Homo sapiens: one gene and its partner. The protein of the gene in region 1 interacts with the protein of each later gene in a biochemical or structural test. Each region holds a gene or a part of one and is shown in the gene's direction. Other genes may lie near its edges.

Evidence for each region. Proteins that work in one complex are often made in the same cells at the same time.
Region 2: of the proteins of CDK2 (region 1) and RB1, one has a biochemical effect on the other in vitro, tested with the Homo sapiens proteins (35 studies listed by BioGRID and IntAct).

Annotation. Positions count from the first base shown.
Region 1 is NC_000012.12:55,962,835-55,969,829, forward strand, and holds the start of CDK2 (cyclin-dependent kinase 2), read left to right. Parts: upstream 1-3,995; 5' UTR 3,996-4,174; coding exon 4,175-4,290; intron 4,291-5,022; coding exon 5,023-5,100; intron 5,101-5,214; coding exon 5,215-5,335; intron 5,336-5,943; coding exon 5,944-6,114; intron 6,115-6,640; coding exon 6,641-6,742; intron 6,743-6,995. Other genes in the region: melanocyte protein PMEL isoform 1 preproprotein, read right to left, coding at 3,102-3,177. UniProt on the Homo sapiens protein: Serine/threonine-protein kinase involved in the control of the cell cycle; essential for meiosis, but dispensable for mitosis. Phosphorylates CABLES1, CTNNB1, CDK2AP2, ERCC6, NBN, USP37, p53/TP53, NPM1, CDK7, RB1, BRCA2, MYC, NPAT, EZH2.
Region 2 is NC_000013.11:48,306,751-48,313,750, forward strand, and holds part of RB1 (retinoblastoma-associated protein), read left to right. Parts: intron 1-529; coding exon 530-656; intron 657-7,000. UniProt on the Homo sapiens protein: Tumor suppressor that is a key regulator of the G1/S transition of the cell cycle. The hypophosphorylated form binds transcription regulators of the E2F family, preventing transcription of E2F-responsive genes.

The DNA of each region.
Region 1 (6,995 bases):
TTGTTTTAAATCAAGACATAATTCACATACCATAAAATTTACTTTTAGCCAGGCATGGTGGCTCACATCTGTAATCCCAGCACTTTGAGAGGCCGAGGCAGGTGGATCACAAGGTCAGGAGTTCGAGACCAGCCTGGCCAAGTGAAACCCTGTCTCTACTAAAAATACAAAAATTAGCCGGGCGTGGTAGTGGGCACCTGTAGTTCCAGCTACTCAGGGGGCTGAGGCAGGAGAATTGCTTGAACCCAGGAGGCGGAGGTGGCAGTGAGCCGAGATCACACCACTGCACTCCAGCCTGGGCTACAGAGCAAGACTCCGTCTCAAAAAAAAAAAAAAATTTACTTTTGAACATGATCAAATTTGTGTTTTAGAAAGATCACGATGGCAAGCAGTGAGGAGGATGGATTAGAGGCTGGCAGAGATTGGGGATGGGGACAGGGAAGACAAAATTATTGTAACTGACCAAGAGAGGTCTGAGAAGAAAAGGATATGCTGGACCTCCATCTGCCCCACCCAGGTCCAACAACTATCAACACCTTGCCACATTTGCTTTGTTTATCCTTACTAGTTGTTGTTTTTGTTTTTGTTTTGGCTAAAGTATGTAAAAGCAAATCCCAGACATCGTGTTATTTTAACCCTACAAATTTAAAATGTATGAGTATTTTCTTGCATAAGCACAATGTCATTTCATGCTAGACAAAATTATCAAACTCAGTCCATATAAAATTTCATGAATATCTGGAAAAATGTCTTATGATTTTTAAAATCAGGATCCAAAATATAAGTACAGTCTTTTTGTTAAGAGCCTTAGGTGGGTGGGTGTGAACAGACTCTTTCCAGGATACATTAAGGAATATAGTAAAAGAAAAAGACTTGAAACTGCAGCACAGCGAGGAAAGTCACATCAAGGAGAACTTCCTAGAAATCTGTGACACTAAACATCTAGGGAGAAAGCAGGGCTGGGATATAATGTATGTATTTCAGCACAGCAGAAACTACCCTCACCCCATTTTTCCCTTTCCTGCAGAAACCTCTCTCCCCTCCCCTTCCCTCCCCTCTCCTCTCCTTTCTGTATATAGTTCAGCACAGCAAAAACTACCCTCACCCCATTTTTCCCTTTCCTGCAGAAACTTCCTTCCCTTTCCTTTCCCTTTCCCCTTTCCTTTCCTTTTGATACAGGGTTTTGCTCTCTCACCCTGCGTGCAGTGGCACGTTCATCACTCACTGCAGCCTCAAACTCCTAGGCTGAAGCCATCTTCCTCATTAGCCTCCCAAGTGGCTAGGACCACAGGTGCTCACCACCAAGCCTGGCTAATTTTTTTTTTTTTTTTTTTTGAGACAGAGTTTCGCTCTTGTTGCCCAGGCTGGAAGGCTGGAGTACAATGGCACGATCTCAGCTTACTACAACCTCCGCCTCCCGGGTTCAAGCGATTCTCCTGCCTCAGCCTCCTGAGTGGCTGGGATTACAGGCATGCACCACCACGCCCAGCTAATTTTGTATTTTTAGTAGAGACTGGGTTTCTCTATGTTGGTCAGGCTGGTCTCAAACTCCCAACTTCAGCTGATCCACCTGCCTTGGTCTCGCAAAGTGCTGGGATTACAGGCGTGAGCCACCAAGCCTGGCCTAGGCCTGGCTAATTTTTTTACGTTTCGTAGAGACAAGGTCTCACTATGTTGCTCAGGCTGGTCTTGAACTCCTGGGCTCAAGCAATCCTATGACCACGGCCTCCCAAAGTGCTGGGATTACAGGTGTGAGCCACTACACCCGGCCTCCTTATCTCTTTTCTTTTCTTTTCTTTTTTTATTTTTTTGAGACAGAGTCTTGCTGTTGCCCAGGCTGGAATGCAATGGTGTGATCTCGGCTCACTGCAACCTCTGCCTCCCAGGTTCAAGCGATTCTCATGCCTCGGCCTCCCAAGTAGTTGGGATTACAGGTGCGTACCACCATGCCCAGCTAATTTTTGTATTTTTAGTAGAGATGGAGTTTCACCATATTGGCCAGGCTGGTCTGACCTCAAGTGATCCACCCGTCTCAGCCTCTCAAAGTGCTAGGATTACAGGCATGAGTTACTGTGCCGGGCCTCATCCCCTTTCTTTTTTTTTTTTTTTTTGAGACGGAGACTCGCTCTGTCACCCAGGCTGGAGTGCATTGGTGTGATCTTGGCTCACTGCAACCTCTGCCTTCTGGGTTCAAGTGATTCTCCAGCCTCAGCCTTCTGAGTAGCTGGGACTACAGGCATGTGCCACCATGCCCAGCTAATTTTTGTACTTTTAGTAGAGACGGGGGTTTCACCATATTGGCCAGGCTGGTCTCGAACTCCTGACCTCGTGATCCACCTGCTTCAGCCTCCCAAAGTGCTGGGATTACAGGCGTGAGCCACGGCGCCCGGCCTCATTCCCTTTCTAATGTGTGCTGTAACCCTAGTTGATTCTGCTGGGGGAGGATCTGGAATCATCTATTGAGCATCCCACCACTAGAACAAGAGAAGTCATAAGATACCCCATTCTTTCTCCACTTCCAACTCTCCTCAGAGCAGCACGGGACATTCCAGACCCTCTCACCACCCCACCCCCGCCCCTTGCTCCTGTCACGAGGCCCAATCCCCCAGAGCCCTTTCATGTGATGCTCAGCTGAGACCCCTCTGCCTATCTCTCCAGCCCCAGAACAAAAGGTCTGGGCTGTGTTCACCCGTACCCATCCCAAGAGGAGAGGATTGTATCTCCTTAGTGTTCTTACCCAATACCACATTCTCTGACTCCCCACTTTAAATCTCCTACCCCAAGAGACGTTTCCTAAAAGAGTCTCCTGCACATTTCACCCCTTTGGAGCCCGTGCTCCAGCTCACTGCCAAGGAAGCCTCAGAATCAGTGCCACAGAGACCTTCTATCCTTCTGCCCCTCCAAGCATATGAGATTATTTTCAGGCAAAATCCCAAATCTCCATGTAGGGAGGGAGCCCAGGTGCCCACATCCTCACTAAATCAAATGAGTGGGAGACGCCTGAAATATTGCCGCTATCTCCCATTAGGAGGACAGAAACCAGAGCAGGGGGAATTCATCCCCAAGTTCACACCTGCTCATGTCCACATATCCACACATACCTTTTGTAGCCCCCACAGCCAGCAAAGCACCTATCACAGCCAAATGAAGAAGGCATCTTTTTAGCACCAGATCCATTGTGTTCTTCCCTCCAGCAACCAAAGGCACTGGGGGGACTGGGATAGGCCCCTATATAAGAAAAGGGTGCTCATTTGCATAGCCCTTCCTCTTCTCCCTCAGAGAAGGCCTGGGAGGGGCCGGAGGAGAGGAAAAAGGAAAAACTGACAAAGGGATCCTGGTCCCTAGACATTGCTTTCCCATCCTGCTACTCAATGACAGTTTCTGGTTTCACTGGGTCACTCTCATCTTGATGCACTCCCGGGCAAGAGCTAACTGAAAGGCAGCTGCGTAACACATACCAGACACAACAGTTTATCATGGGAGAGTGAATTAAACCAGGAACTTCTCAAAAAGACAGAAACAGAACCCTGCATCCCAAAACAGAGACAGTGTCGGGGTATGCTATGAGGCAGAGGCAACGACTCCTCTGAGGCCCAGGATTCCTTTGCAACGAGATTCCCGGCTTCCTGGTTTCCAAAGGAGGCTCCTGGGCCAGGTGGAATTTAACCTTAGGTCGATACATATTTTCCCCAGGATTGGTGAAAATAGTGAGTTAGAAATCAAGAAATCCCTACAGACTAGAGACATAGGTAGGAAACTTGGACCCAAAGCAGGTACTTGGGAAGAGTGTTCAGCCGCCCCACCGGGGAAGAAACTTGTCTAGCCCCCAAGAACCAAACTTGCCTGGGGCGGGATCATTTGCGGGGAGGAGCGCTGGGCTCGCCCCCCGGCTCTGACGTTGACCAATAGAAAGGCCTGGGGGCGGAGCCAGGGAAACGCGGGAAGCAGGGGCGGGGCCTCTGGTGGCGGTCGGGAACTCGGTGGGAGGCGGCAACATTGTTTCAAGTTGGCCAAATTGACAAGAGCGAGAGGTATACTGCGTTCCATCCCGACCCGGGGCCACGGTACTGGGCCCTGTTTCCCCCTCCTCGGCCCCCGAGAGCCAGGGTCCGCCTTCTGCAGGGTTCCCAGGCCCCCGCTCCAGGGCCGGGCTGACCCGACTCGCTGGCGCTTCATGGAGAACTTCCAAAAGGTGGAAAAGATCGGAGAGGGCACGTACGGAGTTGTGTACAAAGCCAGAAACAAGTTGACGGGAGAGGTGGTGGCGCTTAAGAAAATCCGCCTGGACACGTGAGTGGCCTCTGTACCCGGGACTCCTAACTGGGGACCTCCTTGATTGTCCCCCCCAACCCCCCACGGGCGGGTAGCCGTCCAGGGACCGGAAGAGAGCAGGGAGGGACTTCTTTAGAAGTGGAGAGGTGGGTTGGGGGCCAGTAGAAGGTGAAGAGTATACTTATACTCCCTGGGGAGAGTATAGGGTGGTGTGGAATCCATGGAAAACTTTCTTCCCAAACTGAGCCGGATCGTGCCCCCAAATGTGCGACTACAGACTCGGGGAGAGAAAGGAGGTCTCTGAGATGAGGTCCAAGACTCTCCATGGAGTGGAGTTATGTGGGAACCGGCGAGAATCGCCTTTCTGAATGAAGAGCCCTCTTCACTGCCCCACCCTCACCTTAGAATTCTCTCCTCTTTCCAAAGAATGGCAGTTGAACCTCACTGGCCCCTCTGGGGAGGCTGGGGGCTACTCCTGCATTTTTTCCCCTCCATTACAGTCTCCCTGCTTCACCTTCACCAGGCGGCTTTACTTACCTACCCCTGGGAAAAGAGGAGATAATGGCCTTAATATATCCAAAAACCACACCCTGACTACCCAAGAATTAGCTCTTACCATCACCCTTTCTCTTCTCTCACTTTCCTAGGGGGTGCTGGGTGGTGTCTCCTTGGGGGAAAGAAATGACTAGGTGGGGGGGAAAGGAATATTTGTAACCATATTCCCATCTCTGCTTTCCCAACCTCTCCAAGTGAGACTGAGGGTGTGCCCAGTACTGCCATCCGAGAGATCTCTCTGCTTAAGGAGCTTAACCATCCTAATATTGTCAAGTAAGTATGCGTCTGAGAGGTGATCCAGCTGGAAAGGAGGATAAGTTCTGTCTGTACAGTGTGGGCATTTCTCTCTCTCACACACCTCCATTTCCTCAAACTTTCCTTCTCTAGGCTGCTGGATGTCATTCACACAGAAAATAAACTCTACCTGGTTTTTGAATTTCTGCACCAAGATCTCAAGAAATTCATGGATGCCTCTGCTCTCACTGGCATTCCTCTTCCCCTCATCAAGGTAATGCTTCTCATCAGCTCCTCTCATCATGGGCATGTCTTGGGGGACTGGTGGCAGGCAATTCAGGGTGATATTTTATGATTTTGGCCTCCTTCTGAGCCCTCATCTCCTATACACACACACTCCCCTTCTTTTTGTGTCTCCTTCCCTGCTCATTATATTCATTAACCCTAGGGTTGGACTGAACAATCAAAGTTGAAACTCTAGTGAGTCAACCTAGCAACTCAGGTGGGAGGTCAGATGAAACTCAGATAAACGGGATTTGAGAGCACTTGGTAAATTCCTCCAAAAAGCCCTTCCATTTGGTGGAAGACCTAGCTAGTGAGTCCCTATTGTCTATTTTAGGGCTGGATTCTTCACTCCCAGAGCTACTTTCAATCTATTAACAAACATTTTTTCAATGCACAGGATGTAGAAAAGGGATGGAAAATTGAGTAAGACTTGGTCCTTATCCTCTCTGGGCTGACAGTCCATTGGGAGAAATAGCTTGTAAATATGTAACTATAATCCAACATAATAAAGGCTTTAGTAGAGTTTTAGGGGCACAGAGCAAACCCAGTCTGCTCACTGTAATGGAGAAACACAGTCCTCTCTTTCTCCTTTGTCAGAGCTATCTGTTCCAGCTGCTCCAGGGCCTAGCTTTCTGCCATTCTCATCGGGTCCTCCACCGAGACCTTAAACCTCAGAATCTGCTTATTAACACAGAGGGGGCCATCAAGCTAGCAGACTTTGGACTAGCCAGAGCTTTTGGAGTCCCTGTTCGTACTTACACCCATGAGGTGAGTCCCTTTATGTCTTTTTTCTCTGAGCTTCCCAAGAGGTGTTAACTAGGGTATTCACAAAGTTACTAAAAATATCTGGCTAACAGTTTCTTACTAGGTAGAAATAATCTCTTGACATCCTAAAGAGTCTTAGGGTATGCATGGAATTCATACTGTGTTGCTAACTGGGCCCACACCTGTAATACCAATACTTTGGGAGGCTGAGGTGGGAGGATCACTTGAGCCCAGGAGTTCGAGACCATCATGGGCAACATAGCGAGACCCCATCTCTACAAATCTACAAAAAGAAAAAATTTAGAAATAAAATTATGACCAATTTGTCTCAAGTTTTTCCAGGAAGATCTCAAATTAGGGGTTCAGTCCAGAACTATGGACTGGAAATCAGTGGGAGGGGAAAGATGATGGAGGGAAGGAAACTGCTTGTTAAGAGGCCAAGAGTAAGCAGAGTAGTGTTGAGGAACTGAGATGCGGGAATTTCCATACCCTATAAACCACCCCGCCCCTCCCTATTCCCGTCCCTCAGGTGGTGACCCTGTGGTACCGAGCTCCTGAAATCCTCCTGGGCTGCAAATATTATTCCACAGCTGTGGACATCTGGAGCCTGGGCTGCATCTTTGCTGAGATGGTATGGAGGCTTGCCCAAGTTCCACCCAGCCCCCTCCCTCTCCTCCCCACATCCAAGAACAACAGAACTGCTTCTTGGCCCAGACCTATGGCCCTTCTATCACAGGGTTCTCTCTCTAAAGTAGCACCAAGGGGAATGGTGGGAAAGGATGCAACTGTTGCCCTGATATCAACCACAGTGTTAGGATATCCTCAAACAGCCTTAGTACCTGGTATACATCTCTTATCCCTGAAATAAGTTAAAGCATTTCTGC
Region 2 (7,000 bases), on another chromosome or scaffold:
TGAAAATGAATTAGCCAACAAGAATTTATTAAATGCTTGTCTTTGTTAAGGGGAAAGGACAAAAATAAGCAGTCGCATCATGTAAGATGTGCTAGTAGGTAGAGAGATATATGAAACATTGATAAGAGAAGACTACAGTTTAACAAAGTCACTGGCGTTGAATTGTATAATATTATCTATGGGTTTTTATCTTTTTGTTGTTATCTTTATCCTATTTTCCCAAACAGCTTTAGCTATTACATTTACTTTCCTTCACAGAAGTGTTTTGCTGCTTTGAAGTATATTTGACTTACCATGCAAGCAAATATTTTTCACTGTGTGGTATCCTTATTTTGGAATGACCATGAAAAAGATAATCATATGTTTAAATTTGAAGTGTAATGTTTTTCTAAGATAAAATAAGATCTTAAAGTATTTAATAATGTTCTTTTTCACAGTAGTGTTATGTGCAAACTATTGAAACAAGTATGTACTGAATCAATTTGATTTATAAGTATATGCCAATTATATGATTATTTTCATTTGGTAGGCTTGAGTTTGAAGAAACAGAAGAACCTGATTTTACTGCATTATGTCAGAAATTAAAGATACCAGATCATGTCAGAGAGAGAGCTTGGTTAACTTGGGAGAAAGTTTCATCTGTGGATGGAGTATTGGTAAGGATTTTCTTAAAACGTTTTGAAATTTTTTTTTCTCATTTTAAAAACAACTTCAAATCACTATACAAAAATTGAAAGATAGAAAAATATAAAGACAATAAAAGCTAATAATAATTCCATTACCCAGAGGAAATTTACCTCTGCTAACATTAAAAATGTTTGAGGCCGGGCACGGTGGTTCATGCCTGTAATCCTACCACTTTGGGAGGCTGAGGCAGGTGGATTGCCTGAGCTCAGGAGTTCGAGACCAGCCTGGGCAACATGGTGAAACCCTGTCTCTACTAAAATACAAAAAAAAAAAAAAAAATTAGCAGGGTGTGGCGTGCGCCTGTAGTCCCAGCTATTTGGGAAGCTGAGGCAGGAGAATTGCTTGAACCCAGGAGGTGGAGGTTACAGTGAGCCGAGATCGTGCCACTGCACTCCAGCCTGGCAACAGAGCGAGAGTCTGTCTCAAAAAAAAAAAAAGTTTGAAAAAAATTCCTCCATAAATGCCTCCCACCAAACTATTTTAAAGCAGGTCTTAGTTATATTTTATTCACTATGATACAAGGACTTTTAAAAAAACACCGCCATACCTTATAAAATAATTTTTATACCTTCTAATATGCAATCAGTGTTCAGATTTCCTGACTGACTCAGAATTAGTTTTGTTAGAATTCAGGATCTTGAAAATATATTGATATATTCCTTTCATTTTTTCTTTGCGTAAGTATAGATGTATATGTTTAATAAAAGGAGCAAATAATTACTAGAGTTTTATATGTACTGGGGCAATAGTATAAGAATTTTACATAGCCGGGCATGGTGGTGTGTGCCTATAGTCCCAGCTACTTGGGAGGCTGAGGTGGGACGATCACTTGAACCTGGGAGGTGGAGGTTACAGTAAGCCAAGATCGCACCACTGCACTCCAGCCTGGGCAACACAGGAAGACCCTGTTGCAAAAAAAAATAAATAAAAATAAGGCTGGGCGTGGTGGCTCAAACCTGTAATCCCAGCACTTTGGGAGGCCCAGGCAGGTGATCACTTGAGGTCAGGAGTTCTAGACCAGCCTGGCCAACATGGTGAAACCCCATCTCTACTAAAAATACAAAAATTAGCCAGGCATGGTAGCAGATGCCTGTAATCTCAGCTACTTGGGAGGGTGAGGCAGGAGAATTGCTTGAACCTGGGAGGCAGAGTTTGCAGTGAGCCGTGATCATGCCACTGCACTCCAGACTAGGCAACAGAGAAGACTCCATCTCAAAAAAAAAACAAAAAAAACCCCAGAACTTTACAAATCTACGAATAACTCATTTAAAAATCATTGAGATATGAAATATAAAATCTTTTTTTATGTGTAAAATGTGAAATGTTCATTTAACAGATGAAGACACTGAGTAGAGTGAGGTTGAGTAACTTGACCAAGGTCCCTAGGAAATAAGATCTCAAATATAAATTTGAGATTATACATGTAGTTATGTATAGTTACCTGTAGTTACACATAGTTTTGTATTTTCCTGTTTTTTTCTCATATGAGCATTTTCTTATTAAAGTTTTTTTGTAATATAGTTTCTAGTGATAGTATAATATTTTAGCTAGTGGATGTATTTTAATTTGTTAACTCTTACTGGATATTTGGGTTTTTTCCAACTTTTTGATGCTATAAAATAATGTAATAAACATTTGTATTCGTAAGAATAATGCCTGGCACAAAGTGAGTCCTTGATAACTTGTTAAATAAATTAATGAATGAATCTCTGATTATTTTATTAGAATAAATTCTTATAAGTTGAATTACTAAATCAAAAGCTATGAACATTTTTATGACTCTTGATGATTATTGCTAGATTACACTTCAGACAGATACTTTTAATGAATTTACTTTCTCAACATAGTAGTATAAGAGTATATATCTGTTTTTACTGATCTGATTAACACAGCGGAATGTGTTTATGTATGTCCCATAAGAAAATTGTTTAAAACCATTAAATAAAATCTCTGGCAGTAAAAAGGAGAAAACAAGTGTCATGATTTCCAAAGAATTGAACATAGTCTCACATTTCTTATGTAAAAAGAGAGGAATACTGAAGTATCTTGAATGTATGACTTGGGTATTATAATCCCCAGGCATCTAATGTATATTTTAACTGACTTGGGTACCTCATGTACAAAGCTGTTTTTGTGCATATACAATTAAATGGGATCAGAGCTCCTTCACTTTTCTCTTCCTAAAATACTAGATTTTTAGTGTTCAGAAATTTTGGAAGGGATAGCTGATTATAAAGAGCATTAGTGAATATACATACTGTAGTTTTCAATTTATAAGTGCATTGTGTTCCAAATCTGTTTGCAAGTTTGATATAGTAGTTAGGTTTCCAGCCTGGTTCACATAACTTATTTTTTTTTGTACTAAACTATAACAATAATAGTTTTAACAGTAGAGGCTCTTTTGAGCTTCAGAATTGAATACATATATAAGCAAATGTTACTGCTTTATTACCCTTTTTCATCCTGGCTTTGTCTCTACCTTCCCTGGGAACTGGCCCAGTTTGAATCTTATTTCCTAATGGAGCTCATAATGGGGACTAGGATGTGTGAAATTATTTATGGCTAGGTACTGGAGGAAGGTAAGAAAGGAATTTCATGTTATTTTTGGGATTTGAGGTGTGCTTTTGAAGGGTATGATGGAAGATGATGTCCTGTTGTCCTGTTGTAAATCAACAGACTTTTCCTTGAAATATGATTTTAAGTTAGAGTTACGTTTTTGAGGTTTGGCCTGAGAATTTAACCTTCATTTATATAATAATATCTAAGGGAGAATGTGATACAGTGTGTTCTAAGAAGCAAATGTAATGACAGAATAAATGTGTTTCCAGTGCAGCTATTCTAGTGGCAGTTGTCTCTCTTCTTTGAAACAAGAGGAGGAATATTGTCAAAAAGGAAACCCTTTTTAACAATAGAAAGTAGGTGATGTTTATTGGGATAGAGGATGGGTTAAGAGCAAGGATTAAGAGTCAAACAGATATACCATGTCCGAACTCCATTATCTTGAACATGTTATCTACAATTTTCAAGCCTTAGTTTTCTTACCTGTAAAAGGGACTGACAGTAATTTCTGGATCTTGGAGTTATGTGCAGATTAAATAAATTAATGCATATAAAGCTCTTATTAGAGTCAATGAGTATGTATATTAGGTCTTGCAAACAGAATAATTTTACTTAAGAAATACCCCAGAAAATTTTATCATTGATGTATTTTTTTTTAGGAGAACTTAGGATATCAGTTAAAATGGTTACAATTTTAAATGCATTGTAGTGATTTTGATGTAGTAATGTTTGTTAAAATTCTTATTTTTAAGTACTTTAGCATCAGAAAAGTTGTTTATGCATACATGAAAGCATATATTAATCCCTTTAAAGGAAAAGTTTGTGGTATTTTGTCTAGAAAAGTGTTTTCTTTTTTTAAAATAAATATTTAGTAAAGTGTAATAATAAAGATTAGCTTTGTTCATAAGGTTAGATTGTATTTATGCTGATTATAGCATATGAATAGGACTTTCCATTAAGAAATTGGCTAAGGTGATGTTCATATTGTGACTTAAGGTGAATCAGCTGTTAGAATTTTGGTTTACTTTCTGCATCTTGATTGGTAGTATGGTAGAATGGAAAATGCCTTGGACCTCAAGGCAGGAAACTTTGGTTGTAATTATATTGTAGCTATATGATTTTAGGCAAATTGGTTAATTCTGTGAGTCTCAGTTTGCTCACCTGTAAGGCAGAAATAATGCCTGAATGTGAACCTCATAGGCTTTTTGTTATACATACATATATATGTATATGAAATGTATGATATACATATCTCAAAGAGCTTTGGGATATATTGCTCTTGATAGAACCACTTACTTATTTTTGTGATATGGTGGTTATATTTTAAATAAATACAGTCATGTGTTGCTTAACAATGGGAACACATCTGAGAAATGCATCATTAGGTGATTTCATCGTTGTGTGAACATCATAGCATGTACTTACACAAACCTGGATGGTATAGCCTATGACACACCTATGCTGTGTGGTATATAGCATGTTGCTCCTAGTCTGCAAATGTGTACAGCATGTTACTGTACTGAACATTGTAGGCAATTGTAACACAATGGTAAGTATTTGTATATCTATACATAGAAAAGGTACAGTAGATCATCCATATCCTTACTGATTTTCTTTCTATGTGTTTTACTAATTATTGAGGGAGAAATATGAAGCCTCCAACTATAATTAGAATGGTCCTTTTAAATTCTGTTTTTTATTAATGTATTTTTTATTTTATTTTATTTTGAGATGGAGTCTTGCTCTGTCACCCAGGCTGGAGTGCGTGGCACGATCTCGGCTCACTGCAACCTCTGCCTCCCGGGTCCAAGCGATTCTCCTGTCTCAGCCTCCCGAGTAGCTGGGATTATAGGCATGCGCCACCACACCCGGCTAATTTTTGTATTTTTAGTAGAGACGGGGTTTCACCGTGTTAGTCAGGCTGGTCTCGAACTCCTGACCTCATGATCTGCCCTCGGCCTCCCAAAGTGCTGGCATTACAGGCGTGAGCCACTGTGCCTGGCCTTTATTAGTGTATTTTAAAGCTTTATCCTTGGGTACATACAAGTTTAGAATTTTTATGCCTTTTAGGTAAATTGGTACCTTTATCATTATGTAATGTGCTTTTTTATCCAAATTTATATCTTTTGTTCTGCAGTGTCCACATATCGATTCCACTTTTCTTGTGATCACTCTTTACAATGTGTATCGTTTACCTTCATTTTGATTTTAACCTATTTCTTTTTTATATTTAAATGGATTTTTGTTGTTTTGTAATCAGCATTCATTAAAAATTTTTAGCTGAATACTTTTTACTTTTGTTAGGGTTCCCTGTGTCTCTTCCTTTCATGTTGTGCCACAGATGAGCCATTATTTATATCTTTTCTCTCATTGGAGGTTCCTTTTTTTAGGGGAAATTAAATAATCTGAAATATAAGGAAAGGATATGTTGATTTCAAGAAAGGTTGTTTTTGTTCCTTATCTGGCTTGTTCTTGTTGTGAGGGTGGGAGCAATACTCTTTGCAGCTTTCTGCATTCTAGGAAGAAGTGGAATTTTACACTACCATTTGCTTTCTTTACAGGTTTACCTTGGTATTCAGTGTCTGTCCATAGGACTAATTAAAACTATACCAGACTCCTTCTATTTTAAACCTATCCGTTCAGTCTCAAGTTATCTTTTTGCATTGCCTCTCACGTCTGTCCCTTCATTTCTTTTACCAGCAGTGCTTGGTTTTTACTGTTTGCTTTGGTTTTAATTTCCTTTTTATTTTTTTAATTTCAGAAGGTGGAAGCTTATGTCATTGACTTGAGCATTTTTTATGCATGTTTTAGTGCCTCTTTCTGACTAGTCTCTTCTTTTCTCCATCCAATCCATCCTGTGCCTGATTTTTAGAAAAGACTGGTGTACAGTTTGCCCCTTTTGCTTTAAAATTTATTTTTCATTGTTACAACCCACTCTCAGTAGCCTCCATTGTAACACCCTCCCATGCTCCCACCACCATTATGAAGAAGTAAAGTCCAAACTTTCTCAGTATTTGTAGTTCTTCATGGTCTGTGCTTTAACCTTCCTTCCAGTCTTATTTTTTATTTCCATTGTTGGCCCCCAATGCCTGTGTTCTCTTCCCTTCCATATGAATCTTCCATATGAATATCTTCCATATGAATATGATAGTATTCATATTCATGCGATCTCCCCTTTTTTTGGAATACCCTTCTTTTTTCTTTTAGCCTAAATTCTGTTTTTAAGATGCAGTTAAAGCTTCTCCTTTATGCATATCTCTTATAAGATATATTATTTGCAGACTTTTCCCCCCATTCTGTGAGTTGCCTTTTCACTTTCTTGATGATGTCATTTGCAGCGTAGGATTTTAATTTTGATGAAGTCCAGTTTTCTATTTTTTTTTTGGTGGTGGTTTTTTTTTTGGTTGCTTGGGCTTTTGATGTTGTATCTAAGAAGGCCTTGACTAACCCAAGGTCATGAAGACTTATTCTGTGCTTTCTTCTAAAAGTCATATGGTTTTTAGTTCTTGTCAGTCTTGGGTTTTTTTTTGTTTTTTTTTTTTGAGTTAATTTTTGTGTATGATGTGAGGAAGAGGTCTAACTCCAGTCTTTTGAATGTGGATATCCAGTTGTCTCTGCACCACTTATGGAAAAGACTATTCTTTCTTCATTGAATTGTTTTGGTGCCCTTGATGAAAATCAGTTGACTATAAAAACCAGGGTTTATTTCTGGAGTCTCAGTTCTATTCCATTGCTCTGTATGTTTATTCTTTTT